2 linked regions of the Homo sapiens genome follow. The gene in region 1 interacts genetically with each later gene. Each region holds a gene or a part of one and is shown on either strand. Other genes may lie near its edges. The genes, in order: PMVK and NF1.

Region 1 (3,820 bases):
GAGTTTGAGACCAGCCTGGCCAACATGGCAAAACCCCGTCTGTACTAAAAATACAAAAATTAGCCGGGTGTAGTGGCGGGCGCCTGTAATCCCAGCTACTTGGGAGGCCGAGGCAGGAGAATCGCTCAAACCTGGGAGGCGGAGATTGCAGTGAGCCGAGATCGCGCCATTGCACTCCAGCCTGGGTGGTGGAGCAAGACTCCGTCTCAAAAAAAAAAAAAAAAAAAAAGGTTGGTTAAGTAAATTAAATAACGAATGAGTTATTTTTATTTTTATTTTCATTTTTGAGATGGATTTTCACTCTTGTTGCCCAGGCTGGAGTGCAATGGGGCGATCTCGGCTCACTGCAACTTCCACCTCCTGGGTTCAGGTGATTCTCCTGCCTCAGCCTCCCGAGTAGCTGGGATTACAGGCATGCGCCATCATGTCCGGCTAATTTTATGCTTTTAGTAGAGACAGGGTTTCACCGTGTTGGTCAGGCTGGTCTCAAACTCCTGACCTCAGGTGATCTGCTGCCTCAGCCTTCCAAAGTACTGGGATTACAGGCGTGAGCCACCACACCTGGCTTTTGTTTCAGTTTTTTAAATTTGCTTTTCTTATTTCATTTTTATGAGACAGGGTCTCACTCTGTCTCCCAGGCTGGCATACAGTGGTACAATCATGGCTCACTGTAGCCTGGAACTCCTGGGCTCAGGAATGCTCCCACCTCAGCCTCTGGAGTAGCTGGGAGTACAGGCACATGCTGCCATGCTCAGCTAATTTTTAAATTTTTTGGTGGAGATGGTATCTCTGGGTCTTATTGTGTTGCCCAGGCTGGTCTTGAACTCCTGGCCTCAAGCACTCCTCCTGCCTTGGCCTCCCAAAGTATTGGGATTACAGGTGTGAGCCACCATGCCCAACCAGTGAATTAATAAATGATATATGTTATGGTGACCAAGTCAGTGGAGACAGATACCTCTGGCTATGAGAGAATTAGTTTAGGGTCTGGGCAATAACCTAATCCAGCTAGAATATTGTGCGCCTGTTCACACTGTAATTAGCACTTTATAGGTTTTACCTGTTAGTTTCAGGGCTCTTTTATATTCTTTAGAGTTTCATAATAATCCTGTGTGGGAGACAGAACAGAAAGTGTTATCCCCATTTTCTGATGAGGAAACAGGATCAGGGACATTGAGACCTACCAAAGTTACATAATACCAGTAGTAGAAATGGGACTTCAACACAGGCCTCTTGACTCCCTTTCTGGGACATGGAAGCTCCTGGAAATTCTAGGCTAACTGGATTCTGATCTCCCTGTCCTGCAGACTTGGAGCTGATGTCTGTGCTGTCCTCCGGCTCTCTGGTCCACTCAAGGAACAGTATGCTCAGGTAGGTGGTGCTTTGTGGCATCCGGTGTGTTGGGCGGGGCCGGCTCCAGGACTTTGGAGCTGTGGCTGCTGCCTGAGTCACTGGCATGATTCCCGTCACCACTGCTGGCAGGGTGGTGGCCAGCTCTTGGTTTTCTGTGAGTGGACCTTTCGGGGGCATTTTCAGCTTATATTTCTTTCCTAATAGCCTCCCTCCCTTCAGAGTGAGTTCAGGAAGGTGTGCCCAGGAAAGGCTGTCGACACTCGAGTTGGCAGCTCTGATGCTGTGTGATTAGTAAGGACCTGCCTGTGCCTCCTCACACCACCCTCTCACTCAGCTGGCCTGACACAGCCCCTAGAACTTTGCTCCTAGAAATTTAGTACAGGCCGAGCACGGTGGCACATGCCTGTAATCCCAGCACTTTGGGAGGCCGAGGCAGGTAGATTGCTTGAGTCCAGGAGTTAGAGACCAGCCTGGCCAACATGGTGAAACCCCATCTCCGTTTCTTTAAAAAAAATTTTTTTTAAAGTAAACAACAACACACAAAAAAGAAATTTAGTCCCAGAAGTTGTCAAAATATATCATTAAGTGAAAAAAAAAAAAAGCCAATACCAAGATATAGAACAGTGTGTAGAGAATGCTACATTTGTCTAAAACTGAAGAGGCACTTTGTGACCAAGAATTGTAAAAGAATTCTAAATATATCTGCTCATATATTTGGCTATTTAACAAATATTTACAGGGTGCCTGTCTCATGTTCAGCACTGTTTCAGGTGCCTGGGATGTGTTCCTGCACTGCATGGGAAAGACAGGTTAGAAACCGTACCATTGGTTGCCCCCAGGGAGGGGACAGGGTGAGAGAGAGATTTTCGACTGTAAATTAATGTGTATCTTTGAATTTTGAACCACATGGATTAAAAAAAATAGAATCGTTAAAATAGAATAAAAAAAATAAGTCAACAGGAACTCTCAGAATCTTAGACTTCAGAAAGGGAACTTGGAAGGCAAGATCAGCCTCCCACATGGTGAAGAGCCCTCTTGTCGCCACATTTTGCCCTTGACCTCTAGGTGCACCCTTCTGGGACGTGTGCTTTGGCCCCTCAATTGGCCAGAGTGTGGTTTCCGGAACCACATAAAATGAATTGTCCCCCCTTCTATATGCCATCTTTGCCTCCATGGGAAGCATTGGGTCATCTCTCACCAGCTGAACAGACCTATTCATAGGGTGGCAGCCTGAGGAATTGTAAGAATAACTAAATTAAGTGGTTTATTTTTTTTTCTTTTTGAGACAAGGTCTTGCTCTGTAGCGCAGGCTGGAGTGCAGTGGCGCATAATGGCTCACTGCAGCCTTGACCTCCTGGGCTCAAGTGATCCTCCCACTTGAGCTTCCCAAGTAGCTAGGAATACAGGTGCATGCCACTATGCCTGGCTAAGTTTAAAATTTTTTTTTGTAGAGATGGGAGTCTCATTATGTTGCCCAGGCTGGTCTCCAACTCCTGGGCTCAAGTGATCCTCCCACTATGGCCTCCCAAAGTGCTAGGATTTGGGCAGGAGCTACTTTACCTGGCCTGGTTTTCAAAAATTTTAAGCAGGATTCTTTCCCAAATGAAACTGGATACAGAATTTCTTTGTATCCAGGAGACAGACTGGGAGCGATGCTGCAGGGTGGTGGGGTGGTGGTGGGGGGATGGGAGGAAGGAAGGGGTGAAGGGGAAGGCACTGAGCCTTCCCTAGTGGGGCCTAGGCACTTCCAAAGGCCTCCCAGGAGCACTTTCAAAACTGATCTTCCAAAGTTCCCAGACAGGTCTTGCTTCTGTCCTACTGAGTGAGACTGGTGGGGTTGGGTGGGGGGCGGGAGGAAGAAGGAGCAGGAGTTTGCATTTTTATTTATTTATTTATTTTATTTATATTTGAGACGGAGTCTCGCTCTGTCGCCCAGCCTAGAGTGCAGTGGCACGATCTTGGCTCACTGCAACCTCCACCTCCTGGGGTTCAAGCAGTTCTACTGCCTTAGCCTCCTGAGTAGCTGGGATTGCAGCCATGGGTGACCACGCCCGGGTAATTGTTTTGTATTTTTAGTAGAGACATGGTTTCACCATATTGGTCAGGCTGGTCTTGAACTCCTGACCTTGTGATCTGCCCGCCTCGGCCTCCCAAAGTGCTGGGATTACAGGCGTGAGCCACTGTGCCTGGCCAGTTTGCATTTTTAAAAGCTCCATGGAAGACTCTGATAGGCCAGACTGCCCTTGCTCTGTGCAAGTCCAGCACCACTCTATCCCCCACTCCCATTAAAAAACAAAACCAAAATGAAATGTTCATGCATTGATTTCCTAAGTCACAAGAAGAAATATAACCAACAAGTAGACCACAACGCTCCTGGAGGGAAACTGGTTCAGGAGCAGGAGGTGGCTACTGACCTCCTCTTGCAGCAAGGGGAGCAGGTGGGTGATCAAGAAATTGAGAGCCTGAGGGG
Region 2 (3,820 bases), on another chromosome or scaffold:
GTTCACACAGTAGCTTTCTTTAAAGGCTCACTTAATTTTGTGTTCAATAGTATGACAAGATAAGTAATCCTTTCAATTTGAGAGAAATTATTTTCAGTTGACTGCAGAAAACCACAGAACATTTTAGCTACTACAAATTAACTGGTGCAAGACAGTCAAGCATATAAATAAGAAGATGGTGGAAGATGAAATCACTTTTATTTACAATACAAAATAAATGACTGTCAATTTACATCCCGGTGACTTTTAACATGCTTATTAACTCTGATGCCTAGCATCCAAAGGGCACTAGAATCAATATTAGCTCCCGCTACTGGGCTGTTTTGAAGATGAAAATACCGAGGCAGATGCCCCATTTGCAATGCTCCATTTGCAAATATTCTTTTTTTGAGATGGAGTCTTACTCTGTCGCCCAGGCTGGAGTGCAGTGGCACCACCTTGGCTCACTGCAACCTCCTGGGTTCAAGAGATCTTCCCACCTCAGCCTCCCAGGTCGCTGGAGTTACAAACATGTGCCACCCTGGCTAATTTTTGTATTTTTAGTAGAGACAGGGTGTCACCATGTTGGCCAGGCTGGTCTCGAACTCCTAACCTCAAGTGATCCTCCCAACTCGGCCTCCCAGAGTGCTGGAATTACAAACATGCGCCATTGCACCCGGCCAATTTGCAAATATTCTTAACATATAAATAGCCAACAACTAGATATCGCTGACCACCACTGTCCCAAAACAGTTTTAGAAAAACGGCAATGAGAATTAGGACAGAGGGGTTCTAGTCCCAAAACAGATGTACAAGCATGGGCAAGTTACTTAACTTCTTAGTTCCTTTCTAATTTGCAAAATGGAGGTCTGATTAATAAACTCCATAAGACCTCTTACCTCTAAAATTTTGCTTCTATATTTTTCAGACCCATATCTGTTCCAGGTTCACACTACATCTGGTAGACTGAACTAATAATGTTTAGACCAAGTATCTTTTTACACTTAAAACCATAATCCTGTTCTTTGTACCCACAGTTCAGTTAATTTCACTTCAAGCAAATCTCACTGTATATACACATTCTTTTAAAAACATTCCCCTCTTTTCTCCTAGACCCTTCCCATTTTTATCCAAAGACAAAAGGGACGTAATTTCATACTATTTTATTCTCTCCTCTATTCTCTATGAACTAAAATCCAACCCCAATTAGATCTCCATTTTACAAATTAGAAAGGAACTAAGAAGTAATTTGCCCATGTTCATATATATATACACACACACATGCACACGTGCACACACACACACACACCCCATTAGCACCCCTCCTAACATTTATTAACCTTAATTGGAGTTGGATTTTACATATTTTATGTGTGTACACACACACACACACACACACACACTTTATATATATATATACACATACATTACATATATATGTGTGTATGTAATATATGTATACACACTTTTTTTTGGAGACAGGGTCTTGCTCTGTTGCCCAAGCTGGAGTGCAGTGGCGTGATCTCAGCTCACTGCAACCTCTGCCTCCCAGGCTCAAGCAATCCTCCTACCTCACCTCCCGAGTAGCTGGGATTGTAGGTGCATGCCACCATGCCTAGCTAATTTTTGCCTTTTTTGTAGAGATGGGGTTTTGCAAGTTGCCCAGGCTGTTCTCTAACTCCTGAGCTCAACTGATCCACCTGTCTTGGCCTCCCAAAGTGCTGGGACTACAGGTATGAGCCACCACTCCTGGCCACTAATGGTATATTTTAAAGTAAGATTAGACAGAATAAAAAAACTAGTAAAATTAAGTACCCAAAAGTTTCCTTTAGACTCTCCAACTTCCTTATCTACTATGAATTATACGTATTTTTCATTAAGTGGCATTATTAAGTAAAACTAAGATTACTTTTAGATTATTTCTTCACGTGTGAAATGGGGGGCAGAGAATGCTAACCTTTACCTTAAGGTTATGAAAATTAAAAATAAATGTATAGTGTTTAGCATACGGCCTGGCATGGTAGCTATTAATATTATTACCATGTATTGTTTATGCTCATTCTGTAAGGATGATCATGTATTATTTATCCTTATTCTGTAATTCTACTAGTATTAGGCCAGTACTGTTTTTTTTTTGTTTTTTTTTTTTTGCTATTTTTATGTAAAAAATATGCATTCAAGTTTACATAGTTCTTTATGAGCTGGTAAGGAAATATACTCACAATAAGTTACATTATACAAATTCCTACTTAAGTTATGGACTTCTTGTGATTTTAAAAGAATAGCAACAAGAAAAGATGGAAGAGTACTAAATTTGAGTAATCTAGGAACCTCAAGGCAAAGTTTGCTTACCTTGTCATTGAATATACGGAGACTATCTAAAGTATGCAGGTTTTGTTCAAGAAGTGCGGTACCTGCTGAATACAAGTTGACCTCATCAAGCTGCAGCACAGCCACAGCTACCCAAAAGAGGGCTTTGTGCAGAGGCGAGTCCTGGCAAAGAAGATATGTTTGAGGCTAGTAAGATGAATCATGACATAGTCTCTTTCAAAACACACTGCAGTTAAAAATAAAGCAGCTTATCTTCCTAAATTACCCATGTTTTCTCTTTTGGGGAAGATAAAGATATGAGTAAGCTCTTCACTTTTCCATATGTATAACTAAAGACACTGTTAGCTGGACTGAGAACGTTACTTAGCACCTCCTTTGACTTCTCCCTGTTCTTTGATTTCTAAATCCAGTCACCAAGGTTTGTTGATTCTTCTAGAGTAGTCTCTTTTGTATCTTTTGTCATTTCTTTCTTATTGCTAATGACATTACCACATGCCAACCTTCTTTATTATAAAGGTGGATTCTTTTTACTTCAGTTTCTCCCTACTCCAATCCACTGTGCACACTACCACCAGGAGCTAAGTCCTGCTTTCATCGTATGACTTGTCTGCTTAAAAACTGTACATTTCCAAACTCTTTTGAACAATGCTGAATGTGAGATGAGGTCTATCCAGTCCTCACAACTTTCCCTCTCTCGATTCCTTTGAAAAGCTTCTCCATTACAACTAGAATGTTCTACCCACCTTCCCTCCATTGTCCTGGCATTCTTGTGCAGCTCTCTCCCTTTCTCTCTACCTACATTAACTCCTATGTTTCCCTTTAACTTTATTTTAAACTGTCTTTTCAACTTCTTGTCACTCTTAACCAGTATGGTAATCTCTTGCTGCTCTGAATTAAAAGTATTTATTACTGGCAATCTTTACTTAGCACTGTGATATTAGGGAAAATACATGGACTTTAGAGTCAAATAGTATCACATTAGAATCATGGTTCTTTTATTAGGTATGTGACTTTGGGCAAGTTATTTAGCCCTTCTGAGCTCATTTTCACTTAGAAGATGGGGACCAGAGAACCATTTTGTATAATACAAAATTAGAATGCTTGTAGACAAACCAGGAATATAACAGGTATTATTTCTCTGTTATTTCTCCCAAGTCTGGCATACCTTTGTACTCAAATCACAGAATTAAACCACTTTAGAACTGGATGGTAATACCATGCCATTATCGAATCTTTTTCATTTTATTAATACAAAAACATGATTTCCAGATATCTTAAATATAAAAATGGGATAAGGTCAGACCATCCTAAAACAGTGGCCACTTCATTTTACTCCTTTTAAATATAATCTTCATTTGGCACCCAAACTCTTATGACGATCAAGTATACTTCTCCCAGCTTTAATTTCTCCATAGTAATAATCACTAACATACTACGTATTTTGTTTACTTCATTATCCATTCACTCCCCAACCTCCACACCCACCCCAGAAAGTAAGCTCCATGAAGGC

What was found.
Region 2: changes in PMVK (region 1) and NF1 together harm fitness more than expected from each alone (negative genetic interaction), as found in Homo sapiens cells (one large-scale study listed by BioGRID).

Annotation. Positions count from the first base shown.
Region 1 is NC_000001.11:154,929,900-154,933,719, reverse strand, and holds part of PMVK (phosphomevalonate kinase), read left to right. Parts: intron 1-1,304; coding exon 1,305-1,368; intron 1,369-3,820. UniProt on the Homo sapiens protein: Catalyzes the reversible ATP-dependent phosphorylation of mevalonate 5-phosphate to produce mevalonate diphosphate and ADP, a key step in the mevalonic acid mediated biosynthesis of isopentenyl diphosphate and other polyisoprenoid metabolites.
Region 2 is NC_000017.11:31,339,157-31,342,976, reverse strand, and holds part of NF1 (neurofibromin), read right to left. Parts: intron 2,473-3,820; coding exon 2,332-2,472; intron 1-2,331. UniProt on the Homo sapiens protein: Stimulates the GTPase activity of Ras. NF1 shows greater affinity for Ras GAP, but lower specific activity. May be a regulator of Ras activity.